Homo sapiens: one gene and its partners. The protein of the gene in region 4 purifies or fractionates together with the protein of the main gene of each other region. This does not show direct contact. Each region holds a gene or a part of one and is shown on either strand. Other genes may lie near its edges.

Evidence for each region. The genes of interacting proteins can lie anywhere in the genome.
Region 1: the proteins of SRGAP3 (region 4) and SPAG5 purify together in Homo sapiens (affinity purification with mass spectrometry; 3 studies listed by BioGRID and IntAct, with this or other methods). This does not show direct contact.
Region 2: the proteins of SRGAP3 (region 4) and SMCHD1 purify together in Homo sapiens (affinity purification with mass spectrometry; one large-scale study listed by BioGRID and IntAct). This does not show direct contact.
Region 3: the proteins of SRGAP3 (region 4) and HCN1 purify together in Homo sapiens (co-immunoprecipitation; one large-scale study listed by IntAct). This does not show direct contact.

What each region holds. Positions count from the first base shown.
Region 1 is NC_000017.11:28,585,526-28,589,025, forward strand, and holds part of SPAG5 (sperm-associated antigen 5), read right to left. Parts: intron 975-3,500; coding exon 900-974; intron 658-899; coding exon 565-657; intron 474-564; coding exon 339-473; intron 129-338; coding exon 9-128; intron 1-8. UniProt on the Homo sapiens protein: Essential component of the mitotic spindle required for normal chromosome segregation and progression into anaphase. Required for chromosome alignment, normal timing of sister chromatid segregation, and maintenance of spindle pole architecture.
Region 2 is NC_000018.10:2,802,122-2,805,517, reverse strand, and holds the end of SMCHD1 (structural maintenance of chromosomes flexible hinge domain-containing protein 1), read right to left. Parts: intron 2,991-3,396; coding exon 2,966-2,990; coding exon of another isoform or gene 2,883-2,965; 3' UTR 501-2,882; downstream 1-500. UniProt on the Homo sapiens protein: Non-canonical member of the structural maintenance of chromosomes (SMC) protein family that plays a key role in epigenetic silencing by regulating chromatin architecture.
Region 3 is NC_000005.10:45,256,915-45,259,380, forward strand, and holds part of HCN1 (potassium/sodium hyperpolarization-activated cyclic nucleotide-gated channel 1), read right to left. Parts: 3' UTR 1-2,466. UniProt on the Homo sapiens protein: Hyperpolarization-activated ion channel that are permeable to sodium and potassium ions. Displays lower selectivity for K(+) over Na(+) ions.
Region 4 is NC_000003.12:9,061,147-9,064,646, reverse strand, and holds part of SRGAP3 (SLIT-ROBO Rho GTPase-activating protein 3), read left to right. Parts: intron 1-65; coding exon 66-251; intron 252-3,500. UniProt on the Homo sapiens protein: GTPase-activating protein for RAC1 and perhaps Cdc42, but not for RhoA small GTPase. May attenuate RAC1 signaling in neurons.

The DNA of each region.
Region 1 (3,500 bases), on a different chromosome or scaffold from region 4:
TAAATTACCAGTTGGGTCTGGGCATCCTTCAGAAGGCCTCTGAATTCCCGCATGGATGCTAGGTCCTGTTCCAGCTGGCTGATGCGCTGGCTGGCGTGTGCACAGAAAGCCTCCAACACTATCTCTGCCTATTGAGGGAAGTGGTTGCAAGGCCACAGTGGGCAACAGGGGAGCCAGCACAAAAAGATGTAACCATGACACCTCAATAGATCAGTTCTTTACTGCCCAGGGCAGGCAGTTCTTAGGCCACCCATCTGTGTCTAAAGTGCATTTGTGTTCCTGCAGGAACCTTGAGGTGGAAACCTCCCACATCCAAGAACAAATGCCTGTCACCTTACCGCATCCTTGCCTCTGAGAGCCATTTCCTCTCTGTGCCTTGCCTCCTCCCTTTCTGCTTTGAGGCTCTGGAGCTTTGCCCTCAATTTCTTCAGCAAATCAAAACAGCAACAGACCAATGTTTCTGCACGCCGAGACTATATGGTAAGAATCAGTTAATGTGTCTGGTTCCTCTTTATGGCTTTTAGTCCCACCACAGGCCTCCACCTCCATCTTCAGGCTGCTTACCTCCTGACTCACAGTAGTCTTATCTTCTTCTAAATGCAACAGGGATAGGTGAAGCAAGGATATCAGCTCTTTAGAGATAAGCACCCATGATTGCTGTAGAGAAAAAAATGGGTAGGTGAGATCAAATAAAGTCACTAAGCAGGAAACAGGGGCACTGGGGAGGAAAACCGCTAACCCCAATTCCAAGCTCCGCATAAGGAGATGTACTTTACAAATGTTTGGAAACCTCCCTTCACCACCACGACTTAGTATCACCATCTACTAACCACCCAGGATTCTCCATTCTTCATCTTCACAGGAGACCCAGTGGTGGTGTAAGGTCAATCATCACTTACCATGACATTTCTGGCCTGCTGTAGGGCCTGTCCCATCTCATGGCTCTCCTTAAGATGCTGAAGTTTATTAGTTATCTAGCCAGAAAAACAGAGTTGTTCCTTGTTTTGTTTGTTTGTTTGTTTTTGAGACAGAGTCTTGCTCTATCATCCAGACTGGAGTGCAGTGGCACAATCTCAGCTCACTGCAACCTCCACCTCCCAGGTTCAAGCAATTCTCATGCCTCAGCCTCCCAAGTAGCTGGGATTACAGGCATGCACTACCACACCCAGCTAATTTGTATATTTTTAGTAGAGTCGGGGTTTCACCATGTTGGCCAGGCTGGTCTTGAACTCCTGGCCTCAAGTGATCCACCGACTCGGCCTCCCAAAGTGCTGGGATTACAGGGGTGAGCCACCATGACCAGCCAAGTTGTTCCTTTTGAGTAGGCAACATGTACCACCAGCACCTCATTCTTCCTCCCACCCAGTGAGTTATAGGAGCCTTTCCTATTTTATTTATTTTTTATTTTCTGTAGAGATGAGGTCTTGCTATGTTGCCCTGGCTGGTCTCAAACTCCTGGCCTCAAACAGTCCTCCTGCCTCGGACTTCCAAAGTGCTCCTGCCACACCCAGCCACCTTTCCTATTAAAAGCAGAAGCAAAGTACTCAATTCAATGAAGCCAAGTCAGAAAGAAAAATCCACAGGTAGGTAAAAAATTTCTTTGTTTAGCCAGGCACAGTGACTCATGCCTGTAATCCCAGCACCTTCAGAGGCTGAGGCAGGAGGATCACTTGGGTCCGGGAGTTCAAGACCAGCCTGGGCAACACAGTGAAACCCCATCTCTAAAAAAAAAAAAAAAAGGCTGGGCGCGGTGGCGCACACCTGTAATCCCAGCACTTTGGGAGGTCAAGGCGGGCGGATCACCTGAGGTCGGGAGTTCGAGACCAGCCTGACCAACATGGAGAAACCCCATGTCTACTAAAACTACAAAATTAGCCAGGCGTGGTGGCACGTGCCTGTAATCCCAGCTACTCCGGAGGCTGAGGCAGGAGAATCACTTGAAACCGGGAGGCAAGGTTGCAGTGAGCCGAGATTACGCCACTGCACCCCAGCCTGGGCAACAAGAGTAAAACTCCGTCTCAAAAAAAAAAAATTTTTTTTCATTAGCCAGGCATGGTGGCACATGCCTATATTCCCAGCTACTCAGCTGGATTGAGGTGGGAGGATCCCTTGAGCCCAGGAGGTAGAGGCTGCAGTGAGCCATGTTCGTGCCACTGCACTCCAGTGTGGGTAACAGAGTGAGACCTCGTCTCAAAAAAAAAAAAAAAAAAAAAAAGGATGAACCAATTTATATCCTGCAGATAAATAGAGTATGCTTACCAGCATTACCTATTTTATTCTTTGCTATTGAGTCACAAGAAAATGGCATCTCACTGTTCAATTTGCATTTTTTATTGCCAATAATGCTAACCTTCTTAGGTATTTATTCATCATTTTTACTTTCTTAATTGTCTGCTCATTATCCTGGGTCAGATAGATAAAACTCATAGTATGCATAGAGTAAGTAGGTATGATCTCAAAGGCAGTAGAACCCCAGAAGACAAGTTCTAAGAGAAAAGTGGGAGTCTTCATTACTGAGGCAAGGCAGCCATCATCTGGGGGAAAAGTTACTACTGGAGCAGCACTGCTGATTTCTTGGAGTTCATGGCTCCCTTCCCCAGCAAAGCAGTTATCATTCACTGCTGCATCGTGAAATAAGGCACAGAGTAGCACATGAGCTTGGATAGGGCTCACATCGTGCTCAGCTGGACAGTCAGGCAGGTGATGAGATTAATGTGAAGGAGGCAGCCAGGCAGCAAGGACATGGCATGCTGATGGAGAATGGCTAAAGGTATGTCATTTCCCCTCTTTGGTTCTGCTTCAGTGGCCTACAAAGGGACCTGGCAACCTTCAGGGGAAGAGGATGCATGGCAGATTCAGGGATGGGAAACAAGGTCAAGAACAAGAGGAAAGGACACAAAGATAAGAAAACAGGAGGGAAATTGAACAGCTGGAGGAACATGGAGCTTATGGTTTCCAGGATTTTTGGCAAATGGTAAGGTCATTACTTTGAGGATATTTTCAACTCAAAGGAGGTCTCTGCACATTTGGGGACCATCTCTTCTTAGCAGCAGCCACCTATTATCTCAACAGCCACAATGGTGAGGTGCTATCAATTCCTTCACCTGCCACCATTCCCTTCCTTCTTAGGCCTGTGTTGTAATACAATCCTCTAGAACATTGTTGTTGTTGTTGTTTGAGACAGCCTCACTCTGTTGCCCAGGCTAGAGTACACTGGGTGATCTCGGCTCACTGCAACCTCTACCTCCTAGGTTCAAGCAATTCTCATGCCTCAGCCACCCAAGTAGCTGGGATTACAGGAGTGCACTACCATACCCAGCTAACTTTTGTATTTTTAATAGAGATGGGGTTTCACTATGTTAGCCAGGCTGGTCTCAAACTCCTGGCCTCAAGTGATCTGCCGGCCTCAGCCTCCCAAAGTGCTGGGATTATAAGCGTGAGCCACCACATTGGGCCAACAGTGGTCTTTTAGCTACTTTCCTCTAATATTTCCTGCAAAA
Region 2 (3,396 bases), on a different chromosome or scaffold from region 4:
GAAGTGAGTAGTCAGTCTTGGTTCAAACTACCACAGATTCTCATCTTCCTTACTGAATTTTTGTAAATGTTCTTGAATAGATGTTTCTTCATTGCCATTTGTCCTCAGGACCATTTCCAGAAGTTTTAAATGGTTGTTTTTAATATTTTTCACCAGTTTCACAGTATGAAAATTAAACATTCAATTTTTTTACTAAAATGTATTATTTGAAAATTCTATACTAAAAATACAATGGAATTAACCCCATCAATTTCATAATGACTATAAAGTAATCAAGTCACAGAGCCAAAGTATAGACAGTTTAGAAGACTGAACTTTCCTTAGCACTAATATTTAACAATAGGAGCCAATTTCACTTAAAATAATCTGAATGTTATATATGCAACAAATTTTAGTCTCTGTAAAGAATCTTATACCAAAAACCCTATAAAAATGTTAAGTAAATTGAGCCTATTTTTACCATAGGCCTGGCCAAATGTACACATGAAAACTGATGAACGTAATGTGCAAAAAGGCTTGGAGAGAGTTTTATTTCAGTTACTTCAAAATACAAGTAGGCTATTATTTTCCTTTGGAAGAAGAAACCAGAAAAAAAACTTCCTGATTGTAACATTGTGACAAATTTCAGATTATATAACACATAACACAGGATAAATGGCTGTAGCATTAATTTTTTTCTCCAGTTACATTCCTTTATACTAAAAGACTAGTATTAAATCTTAGAAGAAAATTTCAATTGTTCTTACGTGTTACATATTAAACACAAAAGCAATTTATTATTATTTGGTACAACATGAACCTCAGTATTTGCTCAAATGTAGAAAAGGATTCCTTAATATGCTGAGAAATATCCTTAGATAAATCCAACTGTGAAAATATAGAAAAACTCCTTACTGTAATTACTGGGAACCACAAAGTTAATTTTTACAGGGTAGAAAAACTCCACAAAAATGGAGATTCATACTTAAAAACCTTCTTTTACTGATAGAACATTCTTTCTGGTATTATAAAATGAACAAAAGTGTACAGATATGGGCTTGGGGCTAGATAATATCCATAGAACTCGCCATTTTAAGCAATAAAAATTGGCATGTGGGTGCATGCCTGTAATCCCTGCTACTTAGGAGGCCAAGGCAGGAAGACTGCTTGAACCCAGGAGTTCAAGACTAGCCTGGGCAATGTAGTGAGGCCACTGTCGCTCAAGGGAAAAAAAGACATGTTTTTAAACACACTTCTAATAAAAAGAATTTTTAAAACCAACTTTTTTGCTTCTAGATAGTCTCAATGCCTTGGATTTAAAACATGACTCCTTCTTGATACAATGAATTATAAAAGCAAACTAGTTCCACATATTAATTATACGTTCAAGTCTAGTTCCTAAAAAGTCATTTCTCTTTAACCTTTCTTACCTATCAATCAATCATTTTCATATAATCTAATGTCTAAGGACTCCAAATATTGGTACGGGGTGAGTATCCCTAATCTAAAAGTCAGAAACAAGAAATGTTCCAAAATTCAAAACATTTGAGCGCAGATATGACACATAAGGGAAATGCTCATTGAAGCATTTCCAATTTCTAATGAAAGATTTTTGGATTAGGGATGCTAAATTGGTAAATATAATGCAAATATTCCAAAATAATAATTTAAAAACCCCACAAAAAACCAAAATCCAAAACACTTCAGGTCCCAACCATTTTGAATAAGGGATACTCAACCTGTAGTACCATGGGAGCCAATCTTCCCCACAGCTAATTCTGTAATTACCATTTTGTTTCTTCTGTAACAACAAACAGTTTAAATAATTTCCAATTATAAAGATAGATAGGTTAACATCATCATCGTTTTTTAACAAGATAACTTTTATGAAGCTTCCAATTTTAAAAAAGAAAAACACTTATCTATTCAGTAGGGAAGAAACAATCTTATTTATTAATGGCCTGCATATTTAGAAAGGGTTTAAAAACACATACATTTCCTGGGACACAAACTTACTTACCAAATGTATGTCCTTACAAAATAACTTCACAGATCAATAGTCTTGAACTTACACAAAGACATATATATGACATACATTAGGTTAATATACATTTCAAATGTTTTTGCAGCAACTTTCTACCAGAAAGTACACTAATGTGAGAATGTATGTTCTCTTTAACCCCTTAAAAATAGTAATAAAAAATTACAAAATAATGTAAATGTAAAATTAAGGCTGAGACTACATATTCTAGTATTAATAAAGTCAAACAAACAATAGTTATAAAACTTGGTGCTGCTGAATATTTTATATATATATATTTATATATATATATATATATACACACACACACACACACAGGATAAGTCTTTTGAAATTTGAAATGCTACCACTGTCACAAGTTCACTCATTGATTTAATGTTGTTCTGGGTATCTTAACATTTCAATTCCCAAATACCTGTGCTTTTAAAATTTTTATCCTGAATTCTGCATTGAGTTTCCTCACATATTTACAATTAAACATCTAGCCTCTAGAACCTCCCTTACACAAAAGACAAAACATCTTTGTTAAATAAATTCACGCAAAAGTAATAAAAAGGTTTTCAAGAAATAGTTCTGACATGTTCATTATATTTATACTGAAAAATAGTACATGTACTTTTCTTCAGGATTAATAAATGCCATGTGCCAGTTTTACAGTCACTGCCACATTAGCACATTTTCCTCTTACACATTTGCAAGGTAGTGACAACCAAAGGGCATAATGTCTGGAATAATTCCAGTAAATCCATAATGTCCAGTAAGATTCATAAAATTGAATGGTTGTTTCCAGTCCCATCTGAATCGAAATGGAAATTCATGCCCAGGTACTTGTATTGTCCCCAGAAATACTCAGTCTGGTAAGTCACCCTCTTGGTCTTCTGAAACAGAGATGCAGAAAGCAGGGCATTCTTACTGAGACCAATGGCCTCTTCTCTCTGTCACCTCTCATACATCTGTTTTGGTTATAATCCTGGTCAAAGGGGAAAGAAAAAAAAGTTTTATGTACCAAAGGTTTCCTTTCCCTGAATTCCCTCATCACACCTGAATGCTTAAATATCCAATGAAACCATATTCTTTTAAATATAATTCTTGGTATAAACAGATTTAATTAAATCCTTATATATAATCATTTCCTTCACATGTATGCAAAACAAGCCCCCAAATAAAAGTAGTTAACACACACACAGTATATAACATATATAAGTAATTTGTATCACAGTGCTTTGAAATGGTATTATCTCAGACCTAAATTCTGCAGATTTTTCCTTTCACCCCCTTTTCCTTAAATGAACTTATTATTTTAAGAACAGGAATTATAATGCTTATTACAGAAAAGTAACAAAGACAAGCAAAATAAAACATTTAATATTCATAAT
Region 3 (2,466 bases), on a different chromosome or scaffold from region 4:
TCTTTCCCTTCTCACAGGTTCTAGCTCTTATCTTCTTGTACCCCTTCCCTGCCGCAATATATTATCTTACGCAAAGCAAGTAAACTTTCAGTTTCCTATTCCCATTACTCTATTTAGCAAACCTAGGACCTTCCTTAGGACCCAGCATCCTCACAAGGCAGGGTGGGGTTGTAAATAGCCCCCAGTTTTTGCTGTGTCATAAATTATTTTATTCCTTGTTACATTAGCAAAACAGACATTTCAATGTGAATCCTCCCCGTTGATAAGCTTAAATTAAGAATATAAAGTACAACACTGTAAAACCTTTGCCCTGATGTTAAAAGCCTTTCAGAAGGTTTTTGAAATCCCTATTTCCCACTTGATCTGGGTTCCTCTTCACCCTGTGAGACACTCCAGCTGCATTGAACTGCCAGTGTTCCCAATCAGCTGTGCTCTGTTAAACATCCACATTTTAGAAAAGCATGCTTAATTTTTCACTAAATGATAATTATTTCCCCAGCATTTAATGTATTACTCATTCTCTCCACATCAAGGACCTTGTAAACAAATTCAGAGCATTATCTGTAGGTTCTTTTAAGATCATCTTTAAATAATTTTCAAGGTGGGATGCGGGGAGTGTCAGCAAGGCTTCTCTCATTAAAAAACCTTAAAATCTCCATTTGTCCCTGTCAAAGCCTGAATTGGAAGCAGGGTCAGCATTAGGGTGAGACAAGAGATGCAGGGTTGTGCAAGTGCAGGGTTGTTAAAAAGGAAAAAAATTGAAATTGCTTAAGAAAGTCATTGCTTTTGAGGGGTAATAGCAGGTGTACTTCCCTAAGTACAATAGCAAATCTTTCAAAGAAAATTTCTATCCTATTTTTCCTTGAAAATAACCATATTGAATACAGTTATAGAACTGTATTTTATTTATTTGTATGTGCTACAATTTGGTGCATGCAGCAACCACAGTTCCTTAAATTTTTGGCCATTGTTTTCAGGACTCAAAATAGCTCAGCATTCCATTCTATAAGGCCCATGTTTCTTTCCCATGGTACAGTATGAGTACTTTTTAAAGTAGGTGAACATAAAATAAAAGTTTGCTAGTTGTAGTGCATATGAACAAAATAACCACATGGGTTTTATGGCACATGTTCTAAAAAGATAAAGATATAATGGAGAGATATCTCATTCAAACAGGTTAACATTATAAACAGTGCAAGTGAGGGCCATAGAAGCAAAGTAACATAGTAAAATTAACAAATATAAAAACCTAAGCTGAAAGAGGAGGTATGGAGATTTTTTAAATAGTCCTGAAAGATAATAGAGATTGCTCATAATTTGAAGTAGACATAATTCAGGATTTGAAATAAATCATCTAAAATTTTAAACATGTCATATTGTTTAAATCATTCTCTGTCCTATAGGAATGACGGTAATAACTTGACTATGTACTTTGTAGTGTCCTGAAAATAGTATGCTCAGTTAAGTTTATAAATTGCAAAATAACCATCTCTTTAAAGTGGAACAGCATTCATCAGGGAATTGTTCACTTATGAAGAGGTCATCCAGACCTGGAGACAAGCTACTTTTTTGGTGAATAGAATATATTGCCATTGCTACTATTTATCCTCCTTGTTTTCAGGAATGCTTCACTACTTATTCTCATTATGATAAACTCTATCTCAGGCTTTTAGGTATCATTTAAAACCCACTTGTGTGGGGAGGTTCTATCACTCTCCAAATAACTTTGCAGGGCCCAAGGCTATAAATATGAATATATTTATACAAACCTATTTTGTTATAATAGGGCCTTGGGCCTACTATACAAACCTATTTTGTTTAAGGCTATAAATATGAATGTATTTATATAAACCTGTTTTGTTATAATAGAGCCCAAGGCCCTATTATAACAAAATAGGTATGTTATAAAACTATTATAACAAAATAGGTATGTCATAGAACTATTATAACAAAATAGGTTTGTATAAATATATTACAGGACAATTATTTACCATTATTACAGGAAAATTATTTCTCATCTGTATATCCAATAATTACACAAAATGGTTGTGTTTTGAAGTTGGAGAACAACCACATTCTAAAAAGGCACAGAGCAAAAAAGAAAATAAGCTCATATTTTACTATACGAAAAAGGTAAACAAAGAAGTGGTTGAAAAATCCATGTTCTATTTAAAGTCCTCTCATTCCAGAATTATAGAATATAATTGATTTTATGTGATTATCAAGTATAAGCTCTTGGAAATTTTATGATGTAAAAATAGAGGCAAAGCTGTACTCATTAATAAAATAAAACATTTGATTAGCATATATTGATAAAATAAAATATTCATGATTGTAGTTTATTTTTTGTTGAATTTATTAATAATCTTTATATATATTTATATATGTATGGCTTTGAGCAAAGACAAAAGAAATACTCTAACTCATCCCTGATCATACAGTTGTTGTAAGAATCAGCTATTCTAT
Region 4 (3,500 bases):
AGTAACAGGGAGGGCCGTGCTGGGCCATAGCTGGCTGCTGATTTCCCCTACTTGTGCACCCCCAGGTCATGAAAACCTACCACATGTACCATGCAGAGAGCATCAGTGCGGAAAGCAAGCTGAAGGAGGCTGAGAAGCAGGAGGAGAAGCAGTTCAATAAGTCAGGAGACCTCAGCATGAACCTGCTCCGGCACGAGGACCGGCCCCAGCGCCGCAGCTCTGTGAAGAAGATTGAGAAGATGAAGGAGAAGGTGAGTGGGGGCCCTGGGCTGGGAGCGATTGGGGACAGGGCACAAAGGGGAGGGCCATGGTCTTGGCGGACAGCCTTAGCCTTCCCCCTTATTCCCCTGCATCCCAGTGGGGTGGTGGTGGGTAGGGGGGATGGGACAATGTAGCCAGCATCTCCTCTTTTGGAGATCGGTGTCCTAGTGGAAGCGGAGCCAGGCATGCCCGTGCTAACACTGGTTAGGCCTGGCTTAGTGCTAAGGTCAGCAGGCAGACGAGGTGCTCAACTCACAAGAAAGCTGAACTGTGACGAGATTCACACCCAGCAAGCACCTTCTCAGATGAGCTGGAATCACAAGGCATTAGCGGGAGCAGGGGCTTGTTCCAGAGGCCAATTTGATGGCCAAGGGTAGGGGCGGGGGGTGAGGTGGGAACTGATTGCTGAATGTGTCTCAACAAGAGGGACCAGCACCTGGAAAGCTGGTGAAGGGCTCATTCCAAAATTGCCATTGCCAATTCAAAGATGAGAGAGTTAGAATCCCTGTGTATTGATTCTGGAAAAGTCCTTTAGTAGGGTGTGGTGGGAGGAATTCTAGCTTTGGAGTCAAATGAGCTGGGTTTTGAAAATGCCACGTTTACAACACCTCTCTGAGCTGCAGTTTTCAAATCTGATAGGAGTGGCAAATTCGTCTCATCTCTCATGTCAACTCTGATCAATTGCCCAGAGCACTGGGCTGAGAATTGTGAAACTCGAAACAGATTTAGTTAAAAACAGTGCTGTAGGGCTGGCCACAGTGGCTCATGCCTGTAATATCAGCACTTTGGGAGGCCAAGGCGGGAGGATCGTTTGAGCCCAGGAGTTCGAGACCAGCCTGGGTAAAATGGCAAAATTCCATCTCTATTTATGAAAAAAAAAAGGCAAAGAATTTGAATAGATGTTGCTCTTAAAAAAACATGTATGAGTGGCCAATAAGTACATGAAAAGATTGTCTGGGCCAGGCATGGTGGTTCACACCTGTAATCCTAACACTTTGGGAGGCCAAGGTGGTCAGATAGTTTGAGCCCAGGAGTTCGAGACCAGGTTGGGCAACATGGCAGAACCCTATCTCTACAAAAAATAGAAAAATTAGGCAGGTGTGGTGGCATGTGCCTGTAGTCCCAGCCACTTGGGAGGCTGAGGTAGGAGGATTACCTGAGGGAGGTCAAGGCTGCAGTGAGCCATGATCACATCACTGCACTCCAGCCTGGGCAACAGAGTAAGACCCTGTCTCAAAAAAAAAAAAAAAAAAAAAAAAAAGATTGTCTCTATTATTAGTGATTAAAGAAATGCAAATCAAACTCAGTGAACTATCACTTCATACCCACAGGGATAGCTAGAATTAAAAAGGCAGACTATAGGAAGTATTGGTGAGAATGTGGATAAATTGGAATCTTCACACACTACTAAAGGGAATGTACAGTGATTCTATCACTTTGGAAAGCAGTCTAAATGTTAAACATAGACTAAGTTACCATGTGACTCAACAATTTTATTCCTAGGTATCCACCCAAGAAAAATAAAAACATATGTCCATTCAAAGACTTGTACATGAATAGCAGCATTATTCTTAATAGCCAAAAGATGGAAATGACTCAGATGTTCATCTGCTGATGGATGGTTGAATAAAATGTGGTATATCCATGTGATGGAATATTATTCAGCCATGAAAAGGAATGAAGTACTGACAAATGCTGCAACATGGATGAACCTTGAAAACAGTATGCTAAATGAAAGAAGTCAGTCACGGAAGACCACATATTGTGCAACTACATTTATGAAATGTCCAGCATAGACAAATCTATGGAAATAGAAAATAGATGATTGGTTTCCAGGGGCTAAAGAAGAGGAAAATGGGGAGTGACTGTGAATGGGTGCAGCATTTCTTTCTGGGGTGATGAAAATATTCTAAAGTTAGATAATGATGATGGTTGTGTGACTCTGTGAATACAGTAAAAATAAATAAAAATAAAATAAAATAACCAAGCAGGGAATGATAGGACTACAACATAGGGAGAAGGAGAGAGGTAGAGTGAGTGCTGACTGGAAGTCCAGAGGCCGATTTTTAGTTCAGAGTTGTATTTTTGGTTCGATTAGCTACTTGGCTCTTGGGCAAGCCACTTCTCTCCAGTTCTCATTTCCTCATCTATAAAATAGATGAGTTTAATGAAAATACCTTTAACATCCTTTCTAGGTATAACATTTTATGAGTCTATGAAGGGCTAAAAAATGGTCTCAGGGTCATGGTCATAGTTGTCCACTGGAAATAGGCCAAGAATATCAAAACTCTCTGTGGGGGGTCAGGTGCATGGCTGGCGTAGGATGTAACTGCCAGGACCCTGGGGAAAAGTTAGAGATCTCTGAAGAGAATTAAAAGGATGAGAACTCACTGTGGAATAGGAAGGTGTAAGAATGTCTAGGCAAAGGAGAAAAACCATTTATTTACAGAGACCTGACTTTTTACACAGCAATGGGACTCATCAGTCTGAAAGGAGCAGGGGACAGCTCTCCAGCCCACTTCCTCTTTCCTGCTCCATTCCCAGGCTGGCTTAGCCAGGAGCAGCTCCCTGGGGGGCAATTGGGTCCCTGCTGAGATGGGCGGCTCTGGCTGCCCCACCCCACCTCTCCCATCCAGTCATCCTCCCTCCCTCCTGTCCTCCAGTCACTGAAAATGACTGAAAATGACCTTGTGCAGGGACAGTTCTGGGCGCTCCAGACCTAGCAATGAACAAAGCAGATCAAGTCCCTAACCCCACTTATTTTCTAATGGGAGATCACTGACAATCAACAAGTAAATAAAAGGGTAGAAAAAAATACAGTTTCAGGTGGTGGAAGTGCTTATTAAGAAAAGAGCCGGGCAGGGGTGGGCAGAGGGAGTGGGAGAGGTAGATGAGCTTGTCATCGAAAGCCAATCTGGCCTTGAGACCTTGGGCCAAGGCTGAGGGAACCATGAGTTTGAGGGCCTTGAGACAGGAATGAATTTTGCCTCTTAAAGGATGGACCAAGGAGGCTGAGCAAATGAGGGGGAGCCTGGGGGAAGGTGGAGCTTGAGAAGTGGATGGGACAAGGCCATGGAGGGCTTCTCAGGTGCGAGCAGCAGTTTGAGACATCACTGGAGGGTGCTGGGTAGGGGTCTTATTGATTGATTGATTGAGACGGAGTCTCCCTCTGTCACCTAGACCTGGAGTGCAGTGGTGCAATCTCTGCTTACTGCAACCTCTGCCTCCTGGGTTCAAAT